Regions from separate parts of the Homo sapiens genome. Here regions 2, 3, 4, 5 and 6 are each reported to be linked to region 1. Evidence: microRNA targets listed by miRTarBase, many of them from high-throughput screens and not tested one by one. Region 1 holds a microRNA gene; each other region holds the end of a gene's coding sequence.
The links. Region 1 holds the annotated microRNA hsa-miR-3929 (GAGGCUGAUGUGAGUAGACCACU, at 2,140-2,162, shown strand). A microRNA usually pairs through its seed, bases 2 to 8, with sites in the 3' UTR of a target mRNA and lowers its output. Matches are read on the target gene's strand: a 7mer-m8 pairs with bases 2 to 8, a 7mer-A1 pairs with bases 2 to 7 and ends in A, and an 8mer does both.

Region 2: the mRNA of CENPM is a reported target of hsa-miR-3929. The part of its 3' UTR that is shown has no 7-base or 8-base seed match.
Region 3: miRTarBase lists PEX13 as a target of hsa-miR-3929. Seed matches in the 3' UTR shown: 7mer-m8 at 1,898-1,904, 7mer-A1 at 2,500-2,506 and 7mer-m8 at 2,890-2,896.
Region 4: miRTarBase lists MRPS16 as a target of hsa-miR-3929. Seed matches in the 3' UTR shown: 7mer-m8 at 976-982 and 7mer-m8 at 1,142-1,148.
Region 5: miRTarBase lists HUS1 as a target of hsa-miR-3929. Seed matches in the 3' UTR shown: 7mer-m8 at 1,963-1,969.
Region 6: miRTarBase lists ZNF589 as a target of hsa-miR-3929. Seed matches in the 3' UTR shown: 7mer-m8 at 2,301-2,307.

What each region holds. Positions count from the first base shown.
Region 1 is chr18:35,932,592-35,936,249 of GRCh38, reverse strand. It overlaps MIR3929 (microRNA 3929), which reads left to right and starts at 2,108; the gene lies at 2,108-2,162.
Region 2 is chr22:41,936,270-41,939,269 of GRCh38, forward strand. CENPM (centromere protein M) reads right to left here. Exons shown (of 6, transcript NM_024053.5): 6 at 2,468-2,927. The coding sequence ends at 2,787. Among named protein-coding and RNA genes, the nearest start is that of CENPM, 9.4 kb to the right of the region's middle. RefSeq lists enhancers at 1-621, 1-242, 283-422, 463-522.
Region 3 is chr2:61,047,846-61,051,503 of GRCh38, forward strand. It overlaps PEX13 (peroxisomal biogenesis factor 13), which reads left to right. Exons shown (of 4, transcript NM_002618.4): 4 at 627-3,658. The coding sequence ends at 925. Among named protein-coding and RNA genes, the nearest start is that of SANBR, 16 kb to the right of the region's middle.
Region 4 is chr10:73,248,264-73,251,263 of GRCh38, reverse strand. It overlaps MRPS16 (mitochondrial ribosomal protein S16), which reads left to right. Exons shown (of 3, transcript NM_016065.4): 3 at 273-2,415. The coding sequence ends at 412. DNAJC9-AS1 (DNAJC9 and MRPS16 antisense RNA 1) reads right to left here. Exons shown (of 4, transcript NR_038373.1): 2 at 2,814-2,971. Among named protein-coding and RNA genes, the nearest start is that of DNAJC9-AS1, 2.4 kb to the right of the region's middle.
Region 5 is chr7:47,962,113-47,965,770 of GRCh38, reverse strand. It overlaps HUS1 (HUS1 checkpoint clamp component), which reads left to right. Exons shown (of 8, transcript NM_004507.4): 8 at 333-2,483. The coding sequence ends at 415. Among named protein-coding and RNA genes, the nearest start is that of PKD1L1, 15 kb to the right of the region's middle.
Region 6 is chr3:48,268,070-48,271,727 of GRCh38, forward strand. ZNF589 (zinc finger protein 589) reads left to right here. Exons shown (of 4, transcript NM_016089.3): 4 at 1-2,921. The coding sequence ends at 717. Among named protein-coding and RNA genes, the nearest start is that of ZNF589, 29 kb to the left of the region's middle.

The DNA.
Region 1 (3,658 bases):
AGGGTACTAAAAACCTAATCCAATGCACAGGTTTGAACATTAGATGGGATTCACTAAGTTTTTGCGACACAAATGCTTGGTGGGCTCCAGGTGTGGTTTGATCAGGGTTCTGGTTCTGTCTTAACTTCTCTTAGTTTCTCTTGCCCTGTGTGGGCTTTGTCTTCAGGCTGGCTTTCCTCGGCAGGGCAGGCCTGCCAGTTGTCTCTGATGAAGACATACTCTCTCTGCAGGAGTTCATCCCTGAACAAAATACCACAGCAAGGGGAGTGGGGGATGCCCTGATTGGGCTAGACTGGTCAGGCCCGGGCTGATGCTGGGATGCACGGGGGAGTCAACCCCACACAAAACCCAGGTGCTTCACAGTGGGGGTGGGGTGGGGTGGCAGACAGGAAGGGAGGTTTATTCTCACTCCATTGACAAGGCTGATGAAAAGAACCACTAGGAGAAGAGCTACTATAAAACTCTGCACATATAATTATTAGGGATGAACAATGCCAGGTTGTGCTTGATGGGCCTTCTAAGTCCTTTTGGAGCCCTCTCACTTTCTGGTAAGCCTTTAGACAAAATCTGCTTTGCGATGCCTCTAGAATGGGGCAGGTGGAAAGCTTCCTGCAATTACATTCCTTTTATATAATGTTTCTCCACCAGAGGTTTGCAGTTTTATAGGATTCACCTGCCAATTGGCAACTGATTTGAGACACGTTAGTGCATCAGCAGAAGTGGGGGACATGCCGAGGGAGCAGCCTGGTGCTTGGCGGAATGTATCCTCTAATCACTTTTCGCCAGAAAGACCCTTAAAGCAATTATACGCTTCTGCAAAGAGAACTGGAAAAGGGTTCTGGATACTTTCTCCTCTTAATTAACCAAAGAATATGCCAATTCTTTTTAGAAAGTAAACTTTTTTCCCTAGTAACTATATTGTCCCATATCTGGTTATAATTTGTGTCTGAAGTAAGTAATTAATAGAGGACTGCCAGAATTTATGAGAATAAGAAACCCCATGAGTTCACGCGTGCACACACACACACTCAGAGGACATTGATATAGTTTGGATACTTGTGCCCTACAAATCTCACGTTGGAATGGCAACCCCAATGTTGGAGGTGGGCCTAGTGGGAGGTGTTTGCATCACAGGGGTGGATCCCTCTTGAGTGGCCTGGTGCCATCCTTGCAGTAATGAGGGAGTTCTTGCTCTACCAATTCGCCCAAGATCTGGTTATTTAAAAGAGCCTGAGACTTCCTTCTCTCTCTTGCTCCCTCTCTCACTACGTGATATACTGGCTCCCCTTCACCTGCTGCCATGATTGGAAGCTTCTGAGGCCCTATGCTTCCTGTATAGGCTGCAGAAGCATGAGCCAAATAAACCCCTGTTCTTTATAAATTACCCAGTTTCAGGTATTCCTTTATTGCAAAGTAAACAGTCTAAGAAAACTGCTGTTTTCTTTACTTGTAATGTGCTTTTCACTGCCTAGCTAAAAGGAGACAATGGCCTCTGTAAAGCACCTTGTCATGGACAAGTGATGCTGGCATATCATTATAATTGTGACCTATGAAATCTTTGCCTATTCTCAGGTTTCAAATATTTTTCTCCTGACAGTTCTATATAGTATACCCTGCTTATCTGCTGGGGACATATTCCAAGACCCCCCAGTGGATACCTGAAACCATGGATACTAAAGAACTGTATATATACTGTGTTGTTTTCCTATATGTATTATTATAAAGTTTAATTTATAAATTATATTATATTATATATAATATTATATTATTATAAAGTTTAATTTATAAATTAGGCACAGGAAGAGATTACAGCAAATTATAATAAAACAGACAATTATAATGATATGCCAGCACCACTATTCTTGCACACTGGGGCCATTACGAACTAAAATAAGGGTTACTTGAACATCAGCACTGTGATGTCACGGCAGTTGATCTGATAACCCAGATGGCTACTAAATGACCCATAGGCAGGTAGCATCTACAGTGTAGATCCACGAGACAAAGGGATGATTCACATCCTAGGAGGGACGGGACAGATGGCCTGAGATTTCATCATGCTACTCAGAACAGCACACAATTTAAAACGTATGAGTTGGCCAGGTGCAGTGGCTCACACCAGTAATCCCAGCACTTTGGGAGGCTGATGTGAGTAGACCACTTGAGCCCGGGAGTTCAAGACCAGCCTGGGCAACATGGCGAACTCCTATCTTTACAAAAAATACAAAAATTAACCAGGCGTGGTGGTGCATGTCTATAGTCCCAGATACTCAGGGGGCTGAGGTTGGAGGATTGCTTGAGCCTGAGAGACCAAGGCTGCAGTGAGCCAAGACTGCGCCATTGCACTCCAGCCTGGGTGACAGAGTGAGATTCTGTCTCAAAAAAATTTTTTTAAAAAGGGATGAATTATTTATTTCTAAAATTTCTCTTTTAGTTTTTTGGATGTGAGTGGATGATGAGCCACATGTCCCTTTGGTTGGCTGAGGGTAACTGAAACCATGGAAAGCAAAACTGTGGTTAAAGGGGGACTACTATAATTTTAGCTGTATTATGTTTAGGTCTATCATCCATATTGAATTAATTTTGTGCATGAGTTGAGATAGGAATTGAGATTCATTTTCTTCCCCATATGGATATCTATTTTTCCAGCATCATTTCTAGAAAAGCGCTTACTTTTCCCATTGGAGCTTCGGTGGCTTTGTCAGTCATTAAGTAACCTTATAGGTGTGAGTCTAGGTCTAGGCTGCCTGTTGTGTTTTATTCATGTATTTGCATAAACTTGCTTTGTGTACATTAGCTTGGCTACTGGAGCCTCAAACTCAGGTTGTGGAAGTCCTCATATTCTGTCTTGTCAGTATTAATTTAGAGATCCTAGGACCTTAGTATTTCCATATAAATGTCAGAATCAATATGTCAGTTTCTCTGAAAACTTGACCTAATTATCAGTCAGATTGCATTGAATCTATAGATCAATCTGAGGAGACTGTATATTATAAAAGCATTGGGTTTTTCAACTTATGAACATGAAATGCCTCTCCATGTATTTAGGTCTTCTAAATTCATAGTTTTCTGCATAGAGTTATTAAATACCTTTTGTTAACCTTATTTCTAAGTATTTAATGTTCTAGATATCATTATAAATAAAATTGGTTTTTAAACTTTTTTTTTGCTGGTAGTAAATCGAAATATAATTGATTTTTTCAGATTGATCTTGTATTCTGTGACCTTGCTATTTTTACATAAATTCCTCAGGATTCTCTTTGCAAACAATGATGTCATTTATACACAAAGGGAGTTTTACTTCTTAATTTTCAATCTTTATGCCTATTATTTCATTTTGTTTTATTTTACTGCCTAGGACCTCCAGTACAATGTTGAACAGAAGTGGTGACAGTAAACATTTTTAGCTTGTTCTTGATAATAAAAGAGGACAATATTTCACCATTATCATAAATGGCAGTTGAACTTAGGGAAATAATGTTTCTGCTTATGAAATGATTACATATTTGTCTTCTCTTTCGTTTTGTTAATATGGTGGATTACATTGACAATTTAATATGTTAAATCAACATTGCACTCTTGTGATACACCTACTTCTTCATGGAATATGAACTTTTGCATGTATTTTTGTATTTGATTTGCTAGTAGTTTGTTTAGG
Region 2 (3,000 bases), not on the chromosome of region 1:
CCTCCCATGACAACGGTCTGTTTCATGAACTGTGAATTGGGGAAACATCATCTACCTCACAGGTCTGCTGTGTGAGAAGAGCTCTGTGAAGCATGACGTGCCTGCAAATGTCGGGTGACATGTGGGGCCTCGACCGGAATCTACGTGGCTGAAGTCCTCAGCGGAGCCCAAGGGACTGCCAGGAAGTCAGCCAGGTGTCTACAAACCCTTACTGAGCACTAGGGGTGGGGCCTGAGCTAAGTTCCAGAAGGAACCTACAGAAAGGGGCAGATAGGGCCGCATCCCCGACACCTACAAGGAGTTAGAAGGCGGCCCACCCCTCAGTGAAGGGCATGGGCCCAGCTGCGATGGTGACATCAAAGCAGAGAGGCCTTAGGCCGGCCGCGGTGACTCTCACACCTGTAATCCCAGCACTTTGGGAGGCCAAGGGTGGCAGATCACGTGAGGTCAGGAGTTTGAGACCAGCCTGGCCAACATGGCGAAACCTGTGTCTACTAAAAATACAAAAATTAGCTGGGCATGGTGGCGTGCACCTGTAATCTCAGCTGCTCGGGAGGCTGAGGCAGGAGAATCACTTGAACCAGGGAGCAGAGGCTGCAGTGAGTTGAGATCACGCCACTGCACTCCAGCCTGGGCGACAGAGCAAGACTCCACACCCCACCAACCAAAAAAAAAGAAAAAAGCAGACAGGCCCCGAGGTGCTGGTGCAGTGCTGCCCAGGGCTTCAACTGGGGTCCATCCTGAGGCCTGAGGCTGGTGGGCATGCCCTGGCACATGCAGGGTGAATGTGGGGAGGGCACTGTCATGTTCCAAGGGAGTCAGGACCTGGCTCTCTATGGGATTTCTAGAGTCCACTTCTGATGCCTCTACAATCTCCAATTAGACCCAAGGGAGAAGGAAAGCAACTGGCACTGTACAATCTCTCGCCATCAACCCCAAAATGAGACCTCCAGCCAGCTTTTCTCACTTCTTGCAAACTTCTGACAGTGGTGTAATTCCTAATTTGCACCAGTTTTTGAACTCCGCTGTGTGATTTCTTTTTTGGAGATAGAGTCTCGCTCCGCTGCCTGGGCTGAAGTGCAGTGGTACGATCTCAGCTCACTGCAACCTCCGCCTCCTGGGTTCAAGCAATTTTCCTGCCTCAGCCTCCCAAGTAGCTGGGACTATAGGCACAGACTGCCATGCCCGGCTAATTTTCTGTATTTTAGTGGAGACGGGGTTTCACCGTGTTGCCAGGCCAGCCACAAACTCCTGAGCTCAGGCAATCCGCCCGCCTCGGCTTTCCATGTGATTTCAAATAGTTACTGTTCACTGAGTGCCTACCTAGCAAGGTGCAAGGCATTAACACATGTTATGAACACAGCAACCTACTCGCAGGCATGGGGGGTCACACAGTCCCAGGCATGTCCATCGTCTCATTCAATCCTCCCAACGTGACAAGGTGAGCAGAACCTCATCTCCATTCACATCTGAGAAAACAAGCTCCAAGAGGCAACAACCAGGTTCTATAATAGCAGGGCCAGGATGTGGAGTCTGACTGGCATAACGAGTCCAAGCTCCCCTTACCCCGCCCCACTCCTTTTTTTTTCTTTGAGACAGAGTCTCGCTCTGTCGCCCAGGCTGGAGTGCAGTGGCGCGATCTCAGCTTACTGCAAGCTCCGCCTCCCAGGTTCATGCCGGTCTTCTGCCTCAGCCTCCCAAGTAGCTAGGACTACAGATGCCCGCCACCATGCCTGGCTAATTTGTTTGTATTTTTAGTAGAGGCAGAGTTTCACTGTTAGCCAGGATGGTCTCGATCTCCTGACCTTGTGATCTGCCCGCCTCGGCCTCCCAAAGTGCTGGAATTATAGGTGGGAACCACCGCGCCCAGCATTTTTTTTTTTTTTTTTTGAGACGGAGTCTCGCTCTGTTGCCCAGGCTGGAGTGCAGTGGTGTAATCTCGGTTCAACACCACCTCCGCCTCCCAGGTTCAAGTGATTCTCCTGCTTCAGCCTCCCGAGTAGTTGAGACTACAGGCCTGCATCACCATGCCTGGCTAATTTTTGTATTTTTAGTAGAGACAGGGTTTCACTATGTTGGCCAGGCTGGTCTCGCTTTTTTTTTTTTTTTTTTTTGAGGTGGAGTCTCACTGTGTTGCCCAGGCTGGAGTGCAGTGGCACAGTCTCAGCTCACTGCAACCTCCGCCTCCCGGGTTCAAGTGATTCTCCTGCCTCAGCCTCCTGAGTAGCTGGGACTACAGGCGCCCACCACCACATCTGGCTAATTTTTGTATTTTTGTAGAGACAGGGATACACCATGTTGGCCAGGATGGTCTCGAATTCCTGACTTCAAGTGATCCACCCACCTCGGCCTCCCAAAGTGCTGGGATTACAGGCGTGAGCCTCTGCACCTGGCCCACCCTGCCCTACTCTTAATTGTTCTGAGTCAGTTTCCTCATCTACAAAGTCAAAGTGGTGAATGAGACCAGTGATTTTTAAACTTTTTTTAGCCACAGACCTTTTGTTCAAAGGAAACCTTAAATGGAGATGTAACACGCCAGCTGCTTAAAGACACAGGCTCTGCAAGAGTGAGTGTGGGAGTGGGAGGGGGCTACAGTCTCGCCAGCTGGGCCCCCTCGCTGCTTCTGCCCAGCTCTCCCTGCTGCAGCACTGGCACTGCAGGGAACCTTCCCAGCCACGGCGGGCTGAGCCTGGGCCTGTCAAGCCCTGACTGGACATCCTCAACAGAGAATGTTTATGGAGTCAGCACGAAGCCATGAGAAGGGGCAGCCCAGGGGCCAGCCACCCTCACAGGTCCTCCAGGGAGGGGCCCTCAGAGCTTCTCAGCAGGGACAGCAGGTTCAGAGCTGAGACACCGGGCACGTGGCCAGCACAGATCTGCAGCACGCGCACCAGGCGCTGCGCCATGGTGGCCCTAAAGCCTTCCACCTGCGGGGAGAGCAGAGAACAGCAGTGAGATAGAATGCTGGCCCTGCTCCCTTACCCAGAGCAGCTGCAGGGG
Region 3 (3,658 bases), not on the chromosome of region 1:
GATAAAATAGGAAAATACAATAGAAAATTGAGTACATTAAATAATCTTTCTTTAAGCTTAGAGTATTGCCTTTATTTATCATATGGCTAGAAATAACAAAGGTCTTCAATTTTTTGCCCATCTTGGATTGAAATTAATATTTACTGTCTTCAGGATTGTTTATTACAATCACATGAAACGAATTTTATATTTTTGCCAAAAGTAGGCTAAGAAAGCTGAGTGCATTAAAGGTATATCTTTTCTATACTTATTCCTAACTTACCCAGTTGAGAAGGAATAAGATATTCATTTTTTAGACTCCAGTTTAAAATATGAAAGACATTGATGTTAGTTTTCAGTTTTGAGAGAACTAAATCTCCCTACTCTATGAATGGACCAACTGATAATAAACTTTATGTTCTTCAAGGTGGAAGGAAATATTTAGTAAGTATAAAATAAAAATAGAAGAATGGACCCTAGAACTGTTAAGCCTACTCAGCATTTGATTTTGAATATATATGCATGTACTATTTGTTATCTACTATGTAAGCATAACAGATTTTCCTGAATGTGATATTTTACCATTACTATTCTGTTGGACCTCCAAAGTATATTGTAATTACAAGACTGTCTTTTTTTTCCATCAGAACAACAACCCAAAGTGCGTGGTTGGCTTCTGGCTAGCCTTGATGGCCAAACAACAGGACTTATACCTGCGAATTATGTCAAAATTCTTGGCAAAAGAAAAGGTAGGAAAACGGTGGAATCAAGTAAAGTTTCCAAGCAGCAACAATCTTTTACCAACCCAACACTAACTAAAGGAGCCACGGTTGCTGATTCTTTGGATGAACAGGAAGCTGCCTTTGAATCTGTTTTTGTTGAAACTAATAAGGTTCCAGTTGCACCTGATTCCATTGGGAAAGATGGAGAAAAGCAAGATCTTTGATATCTTTCATGTTTGCCTGCAGTTGAACAATACTTTAGAGTACTTTTTAAAATTATTTCTCACAAAGAAATGAATGTACAATCCAATGAAAACATTTGTTATTGGCTATTTCAGGTGTTTTGCTGCTAGAAATTATTAAAGTTACACACTAGTATGTTGGTCTGGTGACCTGGTTACATTTTATTATACACATTATTGGACCATAAGGACATTTGTTTCACCTAGATTTTAAGATTATGGAGACTGCTGTCATTTTTATCTTATTTAAATCTCTAGGTTTATTGGAAGAGTAAGATTGATGAACTATAGCATGCACAGTTTGGTACAGTAGAGATCATTAATACTTTTAAAAGTTCTGCATTAATTGACTTGGAATCCTTAGAAATGGAGTGGTGACATGTCAGTATGAGAACAGGCAAAAGGTAAATTTTTTTTTTTTTTTACAACCTTAAGTAATCTCAATAATAAAATTTTCTGATCTGTATTATATCCAGTGTTGGGTTTATATTTTCACCCACAAACAACTGACACTGCTATCTTTTACTGTATTTTTAAAAATTTAATTTGAAAAGGTCACCCAGAAGCATTCTGAAGGAAATGGTTCTAGAATTATAGAGTATGTAGCCCTAATAGTTTTCCCTCCTAGCAAAAAGTCTGAAATTTATCTTTCTTACAAACTGTTCCATTTCTTCTAAGGATCCCTTAATTATTTATCTCTTTAAGCCAGGCATGGTGGCTCACGCCTGTAATCCCAGCACTTTGGGAGGCTGAGGCGGGCAGATCACCTGAGGTTGGGAGTTCAAGACCACCCTGACCAACATGGAGAAACCCCATCTTTACGAAAAATACAAAATTAGCTAGGTGTGGTGGCACATGCCTGTAATCCCAGCTACTCGGGAGGCTGAGGCAGGAGAATTGCTTGAACCCCAGGAGGCGGAGGTTACGCTGAGCCGGAGATCTCGCCATTGCACTTCAGCCTGGGCAACAAAAGCGAAACTCCATCTCAAAAAATAAAATTATTTATTTCTTTAAAATATGACTAGTTTTCATACTGGGTGAATCAGAAGTATATGAAAGGTATACTTTCTTTTCCTACAACAAATACTTGAGTTCTTTTGAGTTTGCACTTAATGATATAATCAGTTATAATAGTAATTTTTAATATTTTCATAGATTGTTTGCTTCTACCTTGTGTAATTTTTTAAATTCCATATTTAGGATGCTCTGTAAATATTGAAAATGTGTCACATTGGATACATTTTTCTTTTAGGTTTAGTTTTTACTACTGAGACTTATTTATAGTCTTAGTGCTCTATTGCCATTTAGAATATGATAATCCTCATGCCTTTAATCTCAGCACTTTGGGAGGCCAAGGCGGGCGGATCACCTGCGGTCAGGAGTTTGAGACCAGCCTGGCCAACACGGTGAAACCCTGTCTCTACTAAAAATACGAAAATTAGCTGGGTGCAGTGGCGTGCACCTGTAGTCCCAGCTACTCAGGAGGCTGAGGCAGGAGAATCACTTGAACCCGGGAGGCAGAGGTTGCAGGGAGCTGAGATCATGCCACTGCACTCCAGCCTAGGGGACAGAGCAAGACTCTGTCTCAAAACAAACAAACAAAAAATAATAATACGATAATGCTATTTGACGTGTTTTTTGGTTTATAATGATTTTAAATGCAGTTAACTTTCAGTACACTGAATATTTCCCCAGAAAATTGGAAACTTCATATACTTGGCTACGAACATACTACAGAGTAATACTATCAGGAATACAGGTGTATAAGAATACATTTATAGATATTGTTGAAAACTTTGAACTGTTTGATAAAAATTGTGATTTAGTATTTTTTCTTTTGTCTTTTTTTGAAACGGAGTCTCACTCTGTCGCCCAGGCTGGAGTCCAGTGGCGCGATCTCGGCTCACTGCAAGCTCCGCCTCCCGGGTTCACGCCATTCTCCTGCCTCAGCCTCCCGAGTAGCTGGGACTACAGGCGCCTGCCACCAGGCCCGGCTAATTTTTTTTGTATTTTTAGTAGAGACGGGGTTTCACCGTGTTACCCAGGATGGTCTCCATCTCCTGACCTCGTGATGAGCCCGCTTCGGTCTCCCAAAGTGTTGGGATTACAGGCGTGAGCCACCGCACCCAGCGATTTAGTATTTTTTTCTAATAGACTATGTTCAACAAATAAGTAATTCTCGAATAGTTCAGATTAAAACATACAGGAACCAAGTACATACCCAGCATAGAAGAACTTTACTAAAGGCTTCTTGGAAAGCCCTTTTTTGAAACGACAGTATCGTAAGTAACATATCATTTATAATAGAAATCTTGACCCAGTGCAGAAAAATAAATATAGTAAAATTTATTTATCTTTGGCCAGTTTTCCAACACCCAGGTATTAGCCTTGAAGTTGAAGAGATAAGGTTTCTTGTATATTATTTTTCATTTGTGTTCTACAATTAAAGGTTCTGCTTTGATTTGTCAGATAATTTATAGAAATTTTGTTCTCAAAACAAATGTTTGATAAAACAGATTATTAAATTTGGGGTTGAGATGTCTAAATTGAATGCTAGAAGTAAAGTAGAAGTGACCACTATTAAAGATGTATAGGGAGAAGAGTACAGCACAAAGTGATAAAATAGTGACACTTTTGTAGGGGTGTTTATTGTTTGGTTAAGTCTGCTAAATTACGGTATGCATTATCTGGTGACTATTTGTGCCTGAAAATTCG
Region 4 (3,000 bases), not on the chromosome of region 1:
GTGACTGGTATTTTATGCTAAAAATAGGAATAGTATGTTTTGAATGGCCATCTGTCAGTTTACGTTTTTTAAAGTAAGGGGAATATTGTTAGGGAAGTAGACATCCACTGTCTCCTTGCCGGGGAGAAGTAGTACAGAGTTTGGCAAGTGAGGAGCATGGTTTGCATCCATGCACTGGGTCAGATCTCAGACCTCAGTTCTGTGAGACAGAGTTCCTAGGGAAGCATTGGCTTATACTGTGTTATAATAAGTGAAAAATCTGTTACTTTTAGGTCTTGCTGGCTTTTTCCCTCTGCATCCTATGATGATCACAAATGCTGAGAGACTGCGAAGGAAACGGGCACGTGAAGTCCTGTTAGCTTCTCAGAAAACAGATGCAGAAGCTACAGATACAGAGGCTACAGAAACATAAATGAGCTGACTTTAGTGAGCATAGCAGTGGGAACAAGGTCAAGGTCCTTTTGAAACACTGCAGCGATCTTAATTTTGTTAGATTTGGAGTTCAATAAATGGAGTATCCTGAGTTGCCCTTGCTCTTCTGGCCTGGCCTGCACAGGGCCCAGGGAGAGATTTGTTCTTGTGTGACTTAGAGCTGGGTGTGGGTACTAATTAGCTTTTTTCGACTTTGTCTTGGGATAGACAGTGGCTATGGGAGGATTGGACTTTTGAGTTGGGCTCTGGGTCTCTTGGACAACTTTACAATTTACTGGCTTCCAAGACTTCCTGCTTCAAAACCCCCAGCCAGACTATTCATGGCCCATTCAGATCTTCATGTTCATCCCACAAGTGCAAGAACAGTTAACCTTTCTTAATTGATTTTTGTAATTGGAGGTTTATATTGTCTTGCCTAATGCATATTCTCTTTTTTTTTTTTTTTTTGAGACGGAGTCTTGTTCTGTTGCCAGGCTGGAGTGCGGTGGTGCAATCTCAGCTCACTGCAATCTCCACCTCCTGGGTTCAAGAGGTTCTCCTGCCTCAGCCTCCTGAGTAGCCGGGGAGCTACAAGCATGCACCACCACACCCAGCTAATTTTTTTTTTTTTTTTGAGAGGAGTCTCGCTCTGTCGCCCAGGCTTGAGTGCAGTGGCGCGATCTCGGCTCACTGCAAGCTCTGTCTCCTGGGTTCATGCCATTCTCCTGCTTCAGCCTCCCGAGTAGTCCCAGGAGTAGCTGGGACTACAGGTGCCCACCACCACACCCAGCTAATTTTTTTGTATTTTTAGTAGAGATGGGGTTTCACCATGTTATCCAGGATGGTTTTGATCTCCTGACCTCGTGATCCGCCCGCCTTGGCCTCCCAAAAGTGCTGGGATTATAGGCGTGAGCCACCGCCCGGGCAAATTTTTGTATTTTTAGTAGAGATGGGGTTTCACCGTGTTGGCCAGGATGGTCTCAATCTGACCTTGTGATCTGCCCACCTCGGCCTCCCAAAGTGCTAGGATTACTGGCGTGAGCCACCACTCCTAGCCTTAATGCATATTCTTAAATATACAAAGGTAGATTTGTTATGAAAATTGCTTTGGGGCTCTAATAACCTACCTTTTAAGAATGAGAAACTGCTGGGCTTAAGGGAGTTCAGTATGAATCAAGATTGAACCATTCAAATGTGGCTGTGATTTCTGCATATATCATAGATGGGATCCTTCTGAGAATACTGGAATAGGGAATTAGGACACCAAGCCAATTCAGCTGTGAACCTTATTCTTGTACTTTTCTTTCTTGCTGGTAATTTTATGGAGCAGGTTAAGAAGGCTGCTCTGTGTTAGGATAAACTGTATACCAATAATGTTGACAACCTGTAATGAGTGTTGCATTTTACTTCTTGTATCTTTTCCTTCCTACCTTGATGCCAGTAATCTATAAGGGATCTTTATAGTTTGAATGTATTTGAATAACTTCAGTATACTTTAGTTCTACTTTTTTATTTGACTCACAACCATTCTTAGGTCTCAAGTATTCCCATGTGTTTTAAAAGCCTGAAGTCAGTGAGATGAAATTCAACATCAAGAATTTGAAGTAACTTGTAAGGAAAAATAATATAAAGATACCATTGGGGCAGTGGCTCACACCTGTAATCTCAGCACTTTGGGAGGCTGAGGTGGAAGGATCACTTGAAGCCAGAGTTTGAGACCAGCCTGTGCAACACAGCAAGACCCCGTCTCTACAAAAACTTAAAAAATTAGCTGGCTGTGGTGTTGCTCACCCATAGTTCCAGCTACTCGGGAAGCTGAGGCAGTAAGATCACTTGAGCCCAGGAGGCCGATGCTGCAGTGAACTGTGATTGTTCCACTACAGTCCAGCCTGGGTGACAGAGAAAAGAAAAAGAAAACATTACATAATTTGGCTAGAGCATAATAATTTGATTTTCTGGTTTTTGAAAATTTGAGTTGCAATAAAAGGATATTTCAGTGTGCGATTTCAATTTTCCGTAGCAAATGTATATATAGAAAAATGTTAAAATAGATGTATTTGAATACCTTAAAAAATACAAGAAACTGGAAGAAAGATAATATTGCAAAGCATCTACATATATCCTAGGCCTTTTGTGTACAAGGTTATTTGTGACAATTGTAAGGTATTATGAAGGCAGGTAGGATTATCTCCGTTTTACAGATAGGGAAGCTGAGGCCTAGAGGTGGAAACTTGCCCAGTGATGTAAGATTCATCTCCCGGTTATGCCCTCCTGGAAAGCCCTTCCCAACATATTATGTTGTCCATAGAGGGAAAAATGAGCAAAGACAGATGGCTTAACTCTGGTGTGTGACTAAGATATAGGAAATTTATAGAGGAGGTTCTATCAATGTGCCGACTTACTTTGTGTTTTATGTTCTGAGAACGATTACCAGCCATCTCAAATTCTGTGGTTGTCAAAGCTCCCCTGGGGTTGTTGCTGGTTGGCCCCCACTTGCTTTGAGACTTTGATGCCAGGGCAGGTTGAGAGGAACTGACTTCAGCTGAGTTTGATCTTGGATCTGGGAAAGAGAAATGCTTTGAAAATCAC
Region 5 (3,658 bases), not on the chromosome of region 1:
CTCCACTCACTGGTGAGGAGCTGCTCTTCGCTGCAGAAGGATGCTCATGTGGGTGAATGTGGTTTGCCAGGAAGCCAGCCTGCTGGGTGTTTTGCCAAGGGCTTGGGCCGCTTCACTTTTCCTCTCCTCGCACAGGGAGCCGCCAGTGCTGGGGCCGTGATGTAGCCTCAGCTGTGGCAGTGAGAGTGAGAGACTGTGGTCTCTGCAGCTGCCTCAGGGAAGACAGATGCCTAAAACAGGAGGTGCAGGCTGGGAAGGCTGTTCTGAAAAAGTAGAGATCAAAATGTGTGTGCTGCACTAGGTCTCTAAAATCATGGCTTTTCTCTTCCCAGATATTGTGAATAACAAGATGGTGCATTTTGATCTGCTTCATGAAGACGTGTCCCTTCAGTATTTCATCCCTGCGCTGTCCTAGCACCCTGTCGCTGGAGTTGGCATGCAGAGACTTTGTCAGGATGGGAGAGGCCGCAGGTGTTGTGTTCTGATCACTGGTCTGTGCCCTCACAGCACCGCACATCGACACACTGTACTTATTTGTCCCTCTCTAACATTTTAACTAAAAGTTGATTCAACAACACACAGTTGGATAAACATATCACTTCATGTTGCTCATGTCTGTTTTGCTTTGTTTTTAAGACACTGAAAAGAAAAGCTAGAATTTATTTATTCAGACTTTAAAGAACAATTTCTCATTGATGTTGTGAAAATCGTCATGTATTTAGACTTGGTGTAGTAGCCAGAATTCGTAAAGCTGTTGCCTGGGAGCTTGGTACTTTCCCTCCAGGCAGAGGCTCTAGCTCAGCACGGCCTGTAGCGCACAGTCAGTCTTGCATTTCAGTGTGTTCACCCCGCTGCTCCTGCCCCTTGGAGCCCAGTGACAGAAAGAACAGCCTCTGTCACCCCGCCGCCACTGCCTTGGTTACTCAGAGCACTGTGGGGTGTCACAGCTGCAGCATTTGGAGTCTCTCTCTTGCTGAGGACTCAAGCCCACCTGAGTCCACTCCCCTCTTGATGCCTAGAGAGCTGGCCCAGCCAACACAGCTCTTAGCTGGGAGCTCCTTCTGCCATTCCAACTAGTTTCTTCCTGGGGCCAGTTTTGGGTTTAGGTTGTAATTCCTTATATTTCTTTCTTCCACAGTGTATCGGATCTGTCGTTCTGGAAAGAAGACCCTTCTATTTAGAGTAGAAACAAACGAAACTTCTAAGGTATCATCTGTGTTAAGTGATGAGACCATATTTCTTTGATGTTTCTGAACATCAAAGCTGATTCAGTACTGGTAGATGTGCTCATTCTCCCTGAAACATACCCATCATATTTCCTATTATAATTACATCTCATTGTCCTGTGGAGGTGGACATGATAAACATTATCTTTTGTTTTCTTGTTTTGTTTTGTTTGAGACGGTCTCATTCTGTCACCCAGACTGGAGTGCAGTGCCACAATCATGGCTCACCGCATTGACCTCCTTGGCTCAAGGCATCCTCCCACCTCAGCTTCCTGACTAGCTGGGACTACTGGTGTGCACCACCACACCCAGCTAATTTTCAATTTTTCATAGAGACAGGGTCTCACTGTGTTGTCCAGGCTGGTCTTGAACTCCTGGGCTCAAGCCACCCGCCCACCTGGGCCTCCCAAAGTGCTGGGATTACAGGCATCAGCCATCACACCCATCCATAAACATTATATTAATGTCACATTACAAAACTGAGACCTAAGTTGCTTAGGATAAAATGAAATTGGAAGACTAGCTAACATGAAAATTTATATTTTGGCTTTTTCATGTTTTTTGATAAAACCAGTGTATTTGAATGATTCTTTTGATGTTTAGTAATGGTTTTTTGTTTGTTTTTTGGTTTTTTTTTTTGAGACGGAGTCTCACTCTGTCGCCAGTCTGGAGTGCTAGTGGCGCGATCTTGGCTTACTGCAGCCTCCACTTCCCAAGTTCAAGCGATTCTCCTGCCTCAGCCTCCCGAGTAGCTGGGACTACAGGCGCATGCCACCACGCCCGGCTAATTTTTGTATTTTTAGTAGAGACGGAGTTTCACTGTGTTGGCCAGGATGGTCTCGATCTCGACCTCGTGATCACCCACCTTGGCCTCTCAAAGTGCTGGGATTACAGGCGTGAGCCACCACGCCTGGCCTATGTTTAATAATGTTGAAATAGGATGGAATATTTTGTTAAATTAACATTTTAAAATTAGAAGACACCGTTTTAATTTTTAAACCCTTCCTCCTCTCATTGTAACGAAATTAATTCCAGCTGCAGTGAGAAAACTTAAAAATCATGATACAAAATGAAACAATATCTGAAAGTAGTTTTATAAAACTGAAATTGCTGTTAAAGAGAATGTGTTAGTGACTTAACCATTTGCTCTATGTGATGTTTATTATCAAATACATATAATTTTGAAGATTTTAATGAATGGCTTAAGATTTTATCTTTGTGTAGAATGTGGCTAAAGAAACCTTAGTTGAGATTCAAGAAGTTGGTGTCTGTTTCTGATTCTTATCACAACTTGCTACTTAGTGTCTACCAAGTCCTCCACCTCTTTGCTCCTCAAAGAGCTGTGAAAAATGATGGCAGGAGCCGGTACAACACCACAGACTTAGAGAAGGGCACAGTGCTGCTTTATTGAATGATCTACCAAGGTAAAATTTTGCCGGGTCAAGAAATAGCAATTTAATCCATTTAAAGGAATGAATATAATTTGAAACATTAACTTATTTCAAGACTAACATCTCAAAGTGTTGAGACCTTTTTTAAAAGAGCTTTCTGGATTTTGAGCATACTTTCACTGGCTGTGATTTATAAGAATTTGTGGTTTGTGGAGTACTGTCCTAAATGCCAGGGTAAAATAAGGCAGTCCCATGCCTTACCTGCCCTGGGCTCAGGGCCTCACATCCTTTTGGTACGCACATCTTTTCTCTTCTCCCTTGTTCTGCTCTCCCGCAGCATATACCTCCTAGCCCCAGGCAATTACTTGTCTAATATCTATCTCTATATATTTGCCTATTCTGGCTTTTAGCTTTTTTTTTTTTTTTCCTGAGGGAGACAGGGTCTGGCTTTGTCCCCCATGCTGGAGTGCAGTGGTACAGTCATGGCTCACTGCAGTCTCAAACTCCTGGGCTTAAGCAGTCCTCCTGCCTCACCCTCCCAAGTAGCTGGAACTACAGGTGTGTGCCACTGCGCCCAGCTAATTTTTATATTGTTTTGTAGATATGAGGTTTTGTACGTTGCCCAGGACTCCTGGGCTTAAGCAGTCTGCCCGCCTCAGCCTCCCAAAGTGCTTGGATCACAGCTGTGAGCCACCACACCCAGCAATTCTTTTTATCCAAGAATTTTATCACCTGAGTTTTGAGGTCATTCTGTGCCATATCAGAGACACTTAAGAATTTCCCATTCCAGTTGCTCCTGGCTAGCATCCAAGTGGCCCTGCCATCCTCCTCCAGCCCTTCCTTGGCCCAGCAGGGAACTGCTTGGCCATCAGGTCTGTAGGCTGAGTTTATAGTGAGGTACTGTGCCTGGTGTGAAGGAGCCCACTCTTGGGGACCTAGAATGTGGCCTCAACAGTAGTCCTGGGGTTGGGATTCTGGTTCAGCCACTAGGCAAAGGTATTTAATGACATTCATGTTCTTAGTGTATGTTGCCAATTTAGC
Region 6 (3,658 bases), not on the chromosome of region 1:
CCACAGTCACAACATCCTTCTGATAAAAATCACAGGGGGGCTGAAGCAGAAGATCAACGAGTGGAAGGAGGCGTCAGACCCTTGTTTTGGAGTACAAATGAAAGGGGGGCTTTAGTGGGTTTCTCTAGCCTGTTCCAGAGACCACCAATAAGCTCTTGGGGAGGCAACAGAATATTAGAGATACAGCTCAGTCCAGCCCAGAATGCAAGCTCTGAGGAAGTAGACAGAATTTCCAAGAGGGCAGAAACCCCAGGGTTTGGAGCAGTCACGTTTGGGGAGTGTGCACTAGCTTTTAACCAGAAGTCAAACCTGTTCAGACAGAAGGCAGTCACAGCAGAAAAATCTTCAGACAAAAGGCAGTCACAGGTGTGCAGGGAGTGTGGGCGAGGCTTTAGCAGGAAGTCACAGCTCATCATACACCAGAGGACACACACAGGAGAAAAGCCTTATGTCTGCGGAGAGTGTGGGCGAGGCTTTATAGTTGAGTCAGTCCTCCGCAACCACCTGAGTACACACTCCGGGGAGAAACCTTATGTGTGCAGCCATTGTGGGCGAGGCTTTAGCTGCAAGCCATACCTCATCAGACATCAGAGGACACACACAAGGGAGAAATCGTTTATGTGCACAGTGTGTGGGCGAGGCTTTCGTGAAAAGTCAGAGCTCATTAAGCACCAGAGAATTCACACGGGGGATAAGCCTTATGTGTGCAGAGATTGAGGCCGAGGCTTTGTAAGGAGATCATGTCTCAACACACACCAGAGGATACATTCAGATGAGAAGCCTTTTGTTTGCAGAGAGTGTGGGCGAGGCTTTCGTGCTAAATCAACTCTCCTCCTACACCAGTGGACACATTCAGAGGTGAAACCTCACGTGTGTGAGGAGTGTGGGCATGGATTTAGCCAGAAGTCGTCGCTCAAATCACATCGGAGAACACACTCAGGGGAGAAGCCTTATGTGTGTGGGGAATGTGGGCGGGGATTTAGCCGGAGGATAGTCCTCAATGGACACTGGAGGACACACACGGGAGAGAAGCCTTACACGTGCTTTGAGTGTGGGCGAAACTTTAGCCTCAAGTCCGCTCTTAGTGTACATCAGAGGATACACTCTGGGGAGAAGCCTTATGCATGCACGGAGTGTGGGCAAGGCTTTATCACGAAATCACAGCTCATCAGACACCAGAGGACACACACAGGAGAAAAGCCTTATGTCTGCGGAGAGTGTGGGCGAGGCTTTATAGCTCAGTCAACCCTCCACTACCACCGGAGTACACACTCCAAGGAAAAACCTTATGTGTGCAGCCAGTGTGGGCGAGGCTTTTGTGATAAATCAACTCTCCTCGCACACGAGCAGACACATTCAGGGGAGAAGCCTTATGTGTGTGGGGAATGTGGGCGGGGATTTGGCCGGAAGATACTCCTCAACAGACACTGGAGGACACACACAGGAGAGAAACCTTACGCATGCATCGAGTGTGGGCGAAACTTTAGCCACAAGTCCACTCTCAGCTTACATCAGAGGATACACTCGGGGGAGAAGCCTTATGCATGCGTGGAGTGTGGGCAAAGCTTTAGGAGAAAGTCACAGCTCATCATACACCAGAAGATACACTCGGGGAAAAGCTTTAGAGGTGCAAGGAGTGAGGATGTGATTTTAGCAACAAGTCAGCCATCAGCCACACCAGCGGAAATGCTTAGGGAGAAGCCTTGTTTGTAAGGTAATGTGGACAGAGCTGTACGTGGACATCATTACTTGTCACGTGTCAGAGGACACACTCGGGAGAAACCTTCATGGAGTGAGAGTAAGGTGTTGGCTGGAAGTGGCCCCTTAAGAGATACTTGGAGTCAAATCTATCCACTGTACGCCCACCCCACTCTTGTTCTAAGAGCTTTGGGGACAGTCTTTTGACCCCTTACATTCCTTTAGATGTGAAGATGACAGAGATCTAACTTCTGAGAGCAGAGGTGTCAAGTGACGGTCCCCTTGGAGGAATGGTCTTTGCATCTGACTACTTCCTTCTGCAACTGTGTTCTTCCATTAGCTTCCATGACACTCTCCTGCTTTATTTTTTTCTACATCTCTAGCCTTTGCTGTTTCCTCTCCTACCCCACCTTTAGATTTTACTCAGAGTTCAGTCTCCAGCCCTACAATCTGAGGGACACCTTTACCAGGTCCCCTTCCTAACCCTCCAGTCCCAAATCCAAGATTCTTTAACCACACTCTAAAAGTTCTTCAGACTCAGGACTTAAACATAGCCACGCCACCTTGGCCTTCAATGACAGGGATCTAGCAATGCTGCATCATCAGCCTTCCAATACCAGGTTTAAGGGTATTTTAAACACAGCTCCTCTTAAATCCTCCAATCTCAGTACCCAGTGTTTTAGCCATGCTCGGGTGGCTAAATTACATCCAGGAATGGTGCCAGGGCCTTTAGCCATTTGTCTCTCCTCACACTCCAGGGCCCATATGGCCCAGGTTCTGACAGTTTGCCTTACTCCCTTGGGCTGGGGCTAGCCCTACCTGATACCCTGTGTCAATGAGTGTACCTTGGAGAGCTATCCACTCAGGCCCCAGTGCCTCTATTTGCTAAGGGACTCTGCCACAGAAAAGAAGGGGAGAGATGTTCATGTAACCTCAAAATACTTAGGCTTGGTTTTGATGCTAGAGAGGAAAAAGGACTTGGAGAGAGAGAAGGAATGGCTGGTCCAGAGGCTTTTGTCCACTCCCTCTCACTGGAAGTGGTTGATCTCCAGGGAATCCCCAAGGTTAGCCTGCTTAGGGGAAGGGCTAGGGGTACCTGGAATGTAGGATCTCCCCCATGCCTGGCCTACCACCCTAATGTGTCTGGAATTGGTGGGTTCTTGGTCTTGCTGACTTCAAGAATGAAGCCGTGGACCCTCACGGTGAGTGTTACAATTCTTAAACATGGTGTGTCTGGAGTTTGTTCCTTCTGATGTTCGGACGTGTCCAGAGTTTCTAACTTCTGGTGGGTTTGTGGTCTCGCTTAGGAGTGAAGCTGCAGACCTTAGCAGTGTTACGGCTCTTAAAGGCAGCGCATCTGGAGTTGTTAGTTCCTTCCGGTGGGTTCGTGGTCTTGCTGGTTTCAGGAGTGAAGCTGCGGACCTTTGCGGTTAGTGTTACAGCTCTTAAAGGCGGCGCGGACCCAAAGAGTGACCAGCAGGAAGATTTATTGTGAAGAGTGAAAAAACAAAGCTTCCACAGCATGGAAGGGGACCTGAGTGGCTTGCCGCTGCTGGCTCGGGTAGCCTGCTTTTATCCCCTTATCCGGCCCCACCCACATCCTGCTGATTGGTCCATTTTACAGAGAGCATATTGGTCCGTTTTGACAGGGTGCTGATTGGTGCATTTACAATCCCTGAGCTAGACACAGAGTGCTGATTGGTGCATTTACAAGCCTCTAGCTAGACAAAAATTTTCCAAGTCCCCACTAGATTAGCTAGACACGCGTTTACAAACCTTTAGCTAGACACAGTGCTGATTGGTGCGTTTACAATCCTTTAGCTAGACACAAGTTCTCCAAGTCCCCGCTAGATTAGCTAGACACAGAGCACTGATTGGTGCGTTTACAAACCTTGAGCTAGACACAGAGTGCTGATTGGTGCATTTACAATCCTCTAGCTAGACATAAAAGTTTTCCAAG